Linked DNA regions of Homo sapiens: region 2 is reported to be linked to region 1. Evidence: microRNA targets listed by miRTarBase, many of them from high-throughput screens and not tested one by one. Region 1 holds a microRNA gene; the other region holds the end of a gene's coding sequence.
The links. Region 1 holds the annotated microRNA hsa-miR-4762-5p (CCAAAUCUUGAUCAGAAGCCU, at 2,143-2,163, shown strand). A microRNA usually pairs through its seed, bases 2 to 8, with sites in the 3' UTR of a target mRNA and lowers its output. Matches are read on the target gene's strand: a 7mer-m8 pairs with bases 2 to 8, a 7mer-A1 pairs with bases 2 to 7 and ends in A, and an 8mer does both.

Region 1 (3,156 bases):
ATTACATATTCATGGCTTGAGCTATAGCCACTGACTTTGTGCTTGGAACAAAATACATAATTCTTTTTGGTTCAAAAGATTAGATTCAAATTATTGGTCATCAGAAACTGAAGTTTCCTAAGGCATATCACACGTAATTCAAGGTTGCTTTGATGTGTTATTCTGCTAATCCACAACCATGGAAGTTCCTGGTTAGTGCAATGTTTCATGCTCTGACAGCTATCTTTAAGATGTTGTTTTTGGGTTGCCAGGTGTTCATTTAAACACACTGGCCATGTGTTTGCACACGCACATGTGCATACACATAGCCACTGCGGAGCGCCAGGAGCTGTAACTGAACGTGGACTTGATAGAGCAGTATGCGATGTTTTTGTCTTCAGGGCAAGCTCTTGATGCATAGCTTCATGTGACATCTCGTTTATAACAGCCTGAGGCATCAGTAATCTTTATAGCAAGAATTCTAGTGCTGTGTTATGCATACCAAGCTTACCGTTTATTCTGCCCAGTAAATACATGGCTTTTATGGAGTCATAAATCATGACAGTAGGAGTCATACCTCTCCAAAAAAGAAGAGATTTAAATCTTTAGAGTTAACAAGATTTAATGTAATTTAGACATTATTCTTACTTAGAAGTACCATTCTTATTTAAAGGCAGTATATCTCATATCTTTAAAGATAACTTTAGAAACTTACTGCCAGAGAAACAAATATTGATTAAGAGCACACTGTGTGCCAAGCATTATGCGAGGTGCTGGAGAGAAGGAAGGGGAAGAAAAGGTCCTCACCCTCAAGTAACTTGAAGCTTAGAGGGACAATGATAAATAGTAAAAGATTCTAGAGTCCGGGCATGGTGGTTCACACCTGTAATCCCAACACTTTGGGAGGCTGAGGTGGGCGGATCACCTGAGGTCAGGAGTTCAAGACCAGCCTGGCTAACATGGTGAAACCCTGTCTCTACTAAAAATACAAAAAGTAGCCGGGCGTGGTGGCGCATGCCTGTAATCCCAGCTACTCGGGAGGCTGAGGCGGGAGAATCACCTGAACTCGGGAGGCAGAGGTTGCAGTGAGCCGAGATAGCATCACTGCACTCCAGCCTGGGCAGAGCAAGACTCCGTGTCAAACAAACAAACAAAAAAGATTCTAGAGCAGTCTGATCAGGGTGAGGGTTCCGTACTCTTCTTGTGCCATGAAGCAGGAGGAAAGGCCTCCTGAGGGAGCTGAGGCTGCACGAGGATGAGCAAGGTTTCATAATGTCCTCCAGAGGCCAGTTTACCAAGCTGCATCAGCTCCTCCCTCCCAGCCACCCTGCCCTTCATAAAGCTCTAGTTTTGTAGGGGATGGGGTGGGATGGGGTCACACCTCAGCTGCCGGCATGAGCTAAGGGACCATATAACAGTCAGCACTGTCCATCGCTTGCTTCTCTCTCTTTCTAATTTACATACAGCTAAACACAGATTTTTAATGAATGGCTGATAAGTTTTGACAGATGTCTGCACCTGTGTAATTATCACCCCAGTCAAGGTACAGAGAGCACCTCTATCCCCTCAGAAAGTTTTTTCCATGCTGGCTGTTGTGTGCCAGTGTGCCAGGAGAGCATGGGGCAGGGGAATGATGGCCCTAAGAAAGGAAGGAGGAACAGGGGGAATCTTGAATTACATTCTTTCCCCACGTGGAGATAGATTTGTGCTAATTCCACAACGTGGAACATCCTCCTTCGTTTGCTTAGACTTCCCTGGGAGCAGTAGCCCATGTACTGGTGGCCTAGCTCAACTGTGGCTTGGTTCTGGGCCTGTAAAGCCATCTTTCCCACCTACAGATGACATTCCCTATCTTCATCATGTGCTTTTAGTCAGGTTTCCTGCGGGCCAGATGCATCTGAGAGTGTGCCCTCATTAATATGGGACTCTGTGTATGTCCAGCACATGTGGGGTTTATTCACGTACCAGTGATTATTATTCAACATCGTTCCCTTTAGTGCAGCAAGCACTTTCTGAGTGCTTACCATGTGCCACTTTCTGTGAACCTCTGCAGTTCAACAGTGGAGTCAGAGGCAGTCCTTGTTCTCAAGTAGCTCATGATCTACTGTGGGAGACAGATGGCTAGATGATAGGGTGTAGTCATATCCCATTATTTCTGATACCCCAAATCTTGATCAGAAGCCTTGATCAGAAGCTAGGAAGGCTTCTGATCAAGATTTGTGGTGTCAAGAATAACAACGATTACAGCAATAGTAGTTGCTTATTGAGTGTGTCCTGTGTCCTAGGCACAGTTCTGAGTATTCGTCTCTTACCTCATTTAATGATGATACCTCTCCCATGTTGCAGATGAGGAGACTGAGGGCCAGAATGGTTCAGTAGTGTACCCAAGGCCACACAGCTGTTAAGTGGCATGAGAAAGAAAGAAACTTTCATTTTAAGCCTCTTAGATTTTTGTGGATTGTTTGTTACTGCAGCACGAACCAGCCCATCCTCACTGATAAGAGCCCCAGTGTGCGGAGTGGATTCCTGAGCCAGTTAAAAGGTTGCTACAGCAGTGGAGGCCTGGTTGGAGGGTGGTGATAAGCCTGGAAATAAAAGGACATATGTGAGAGACAGTAATTTGATAAAGAGTAATGAAAGAGGAAGCTTTCTTTCAGGTAGCTTATTCTGTTTCATTATTGTTGTTTTCCTTTTGGGAAAGAAGTTGAATTTTCATTGTTGGCTTATGTTTTCAAGGGTGACCTCAGTATTTTATTTTATTTTATTTTTTTGAGACGGAGTCTTGCTCTGTCGCCAGGTTGGAATGCAGTGGCGTGATTTCGGCTCACTGCAACCTCCACCTCCCAGGTTCAGGCGATTCCCCAGCCTCAGCCTCCCAAGTAGCTGGGACTTTAATGTTTTTATATTGGTGATTTTGAGCAGAGACTGTATTACCATCTAAAACACTACAAGCCTAGCATGTAAGCTCCATGTCTGTTTGCTCCTCATTCTCTCCAGGGCCCCTGGCACAGTTCCGGGCCCACAGTGAGTGCTCTGTAAACTTTTAGGGATGAACAAATGAATATTTTTAAATCTGTTCATTGTTTTCACAGTTAAACTTTTCTAAGCACTTATGTAATACTGTGTTTACTTAATTTTCATTTCTCACCAACCTTTATGGAAGACTAGGTGATAACT
Region 2 (3,000 bases), not on the chromosome of region 1:
ACACAGCCAGCTAGTGGCAACCCAGGACCTGAACTCGGGTCTTCTATATCTGCTATTGTACTGTTACATGTAGGTCTTTGTATATGGGAAAACTTTGCCTCAACCCTCTTAGATTAAAAAGTGCATGGCAGCTGCACACTGGCAAATTCAAGTTGGGGAAGTGCCGTGCAGATGAGAAGGTTGGGTGGCAGAGTGAAATAAAATGTCTTCCTTGATACTGTATCTCAGCACTTACCCAACATTAAACTTTTGTTCTATCTGCAGGGATTGCAAATTTTTATCCTGTACACTGTTAGAACAAAAGTCTTCCAGAGTGAAGCTTCCAAAGTGTTGATGTTGCTATCGTCTATTGGGAGAAGGAAGTCATTGCCTTCAGTGACGCGGCCGAGGCTGCGTGTAAAGATGTATAATTTCCTCAGGTCATTGCCAACCTTACATGAACGCTTTAGGCTACTGGAAACCTCTCCGAGTACTGAGGAAATCACACTCTCTGAAAGTGACAATGCAAAGGAAAGCATCTAGACAGTAAAACTTACCTGTTGTGGTCTTTTTAATCACCTCGTTTGAGTTTTATCTGTTTCTCTCCTTTATTTCCCAGTCCTCTCAGAAAGTCTTCCTCAATGTATTTTGCTCAGGATTAAGAATTAGATAAAACCTGTTGTTTATTATTATTCGGCATAATGGACTTGGTAGTTTTTCTATTTTTCAATAGATTTGTACTTGAATAAGGTGAAGAATTTCACACAACATACAAGAGTACCATTGTTCCTTATATCGTTAAATCTTTGTGACACACTTTGACAAAAATGTAGAACCTATAACAAATTCTTTTACAAGTTACTATAAAGGACACAAAGAGAAAACTTTACCTTCCAGAACAAAATGACTCCTGATGAACAGTGTGTGGGGATTTGCTTGTATGTATTAAACTTTTGACCTCTGAATATTTTACAGTCGTATGTGCTTGTACTTTTATTTCCAATGAAGAATTTGGCACCAATTCAAACTTTGAAAAGCGATATTTTTTTCTGTTTAAAAAAAAGTGTGTTTTGTGACCAGGAGAATTGGCTCTGTAAGAAATGGGCAGCGAGACAGGTTAGTTTGTTACTAAATGGATATTTCCTTCCAGTTCTTAATATATTTGCTCTTTCACTGAAGTGGCACTGAGACCCCCAAAATGAGAAGTTAGTCATAATCATCATTTATGGCTTTTAAAAGATTTAACTGCTCATGGAAAGTCAAACACTTGAATTATGAATGGCTTCCTCATTAAAAAAAATGGCCTCTATTTGGGTGGTGAGCATTCCCACTGGACTTAGGATATATAGTCTTTAAATTGCTGTTTTCTGTTTTGCCATAAACAAGACAGCTGCTGTCAGTGCACGGAATTCCGAGATTAACAAATGTCATGTGGGCTTGGCACTCCCTAAAGAATGTGTGTTTTCTAGAGAAATAGTTGCAGAAGACTTTTGGGTTCCTGGGCAAGCCAACAAGAGCCTATATTTATAGGAGAACAGAAAAAAGTAAAGGGAAGAGAATAAAGAATAAAAGCAGACCTCAAAAGCCAGTGTTCTTGGTGGCATCATAGGGCTGCACCTAAATAGTAGCTGGGCACAGGGAAAATGATAAGATGTGGTTGACTCAAAATTTGTATTCAGATGAAAATTAAGCTTAAGTTAGGGCCACTTTAAATGTTAAAAAAAAAAAATCACCAAAGAGCCATATTTAGCCTGAGGGTAAGTGTATGTGTTTCCCTTTGTAATTACAGTTGTTTTCTTTGCACGTTTTTCAGCACTTTTGGGGCATAGTAACTAAAATTCCATAAAATGTTGCTGAAATATCTGTACTATAAATGTGCAAGCTCCACATGCAATTGTGGTGACTAATTCAGGTGAACATGGATATTCTTCTGTCTACCCTGAAATGAATCCTACCACTAGGAAATAATTCCTTTGATTTAAATCATTGTCTCATGCACCGGTCAGCAATTTTCAGTTTAATGATAGAAACCCAACTCAAATTAGGTTAAAGGTGAAGGTAATTTAATGGATCAGTTAATGTAAAGTCCAAGGACCGAGTTGGTAGGATTACTATGTGTTTTAGTTTGCCTGGGCAAGTCCCAATTTGTGCCTGTTTTTCTGAGTTAAGCATTACTAGCAGCCCCTTTTACCTTCAAGTGTCATGGTTTGAGTTATGAAATATATGATAATGCTAACTTTAGGTCTATTTAGAACAAGTGATATGGGTGGGGGCAGGGAAGTGCTGAGTAGAGAAGGGCAGGGTCCCTGGTGAGGGCTCCACCCTGGGGTCTGCTCCCATGGACCTAAGTGAGAACAGGCACTCCTGTTTTCATGCCCAAATGTTGCATTTTCCAAGGCCACTCTGGCCCACCACGACCCCCATCCTGTGTCCGTATAAACCCGAGACCTTAGCGACACACACATAAGGGGCTGAACATCGAGAAGAGCAGGGGAAAAGAGCGGTGGAGAATGGTGGGGTGGTGTGGCAGAGAAGGAGGGAAGAGGCTTCTGAATGTTGGCCAAGGACAGCCAGACTCCAGGGGAAGATCACCTTCCCACTCCATTCCCCTTTTCCAGCTCCCCATCCACCTCACCGAGAGCCACCTCCACCACTCAGTAAAACCTTGCACTCATCCTTCAAGCCCACGTGTGATTTGATTTTGCCGGTACACTGGGTAAGAACTCAGGATACAGAAAGCTATCACACTGGCCCTCTGCCCTGGCGATAAGGCAGAGGGCTTATTGAACTGATTAACACAAGCTGTCTGCAGATGGCAAAGCTGAAAGCGCACACTGTAACACACAACCACCTGGGCTCTGGGAGTGGCAGACACCCACCCATAGACGGTGCTGTGGGGTTGGGGCCCAAAGGCTTTCCCCACGACCTCTTCACCTGCCTGTCTGCATGTTCCGCCTAGGAGGCAGGGAGCCCAGCGAGCCACACCCCTGTCACATGCCCTGTGACGGGGATCAGGGAACT

Region 2: miRTarBase lists ADGRG7 as a target of hsa-miR-4762-5p. Seed matches in the 3' UTR shown: 7mer-m8 at 711-717.

What each region holds. Positions count from the first base shown.
Region 1 is chr22:45,758,390-45,761,545 of GRCh38, forward strand. It overlaps MIR4762 (microRNA 4762), which reads left to right and starts at 2,135; the gene lies at 2,135-2,209. The region is part of intron 9 of ATXN10 (ataxin 10); the gene reads left to right. RefSeq lists an enhancer at 1-276.
Region 2 is chr3:100,694,480-100,697,479 of GRCh38, forward strand. It overlaps ADGRG7 (adhesion G protein-coupled receptor G7), which reads left to right. Exons shown (of 16, transcript NM_032787.3): 16 at 265-1,000. The coding sequence ends at 522. Among named protein-coding and RNA genes, the nearest start is that of TFG, 14 kb to the right of the region's middle.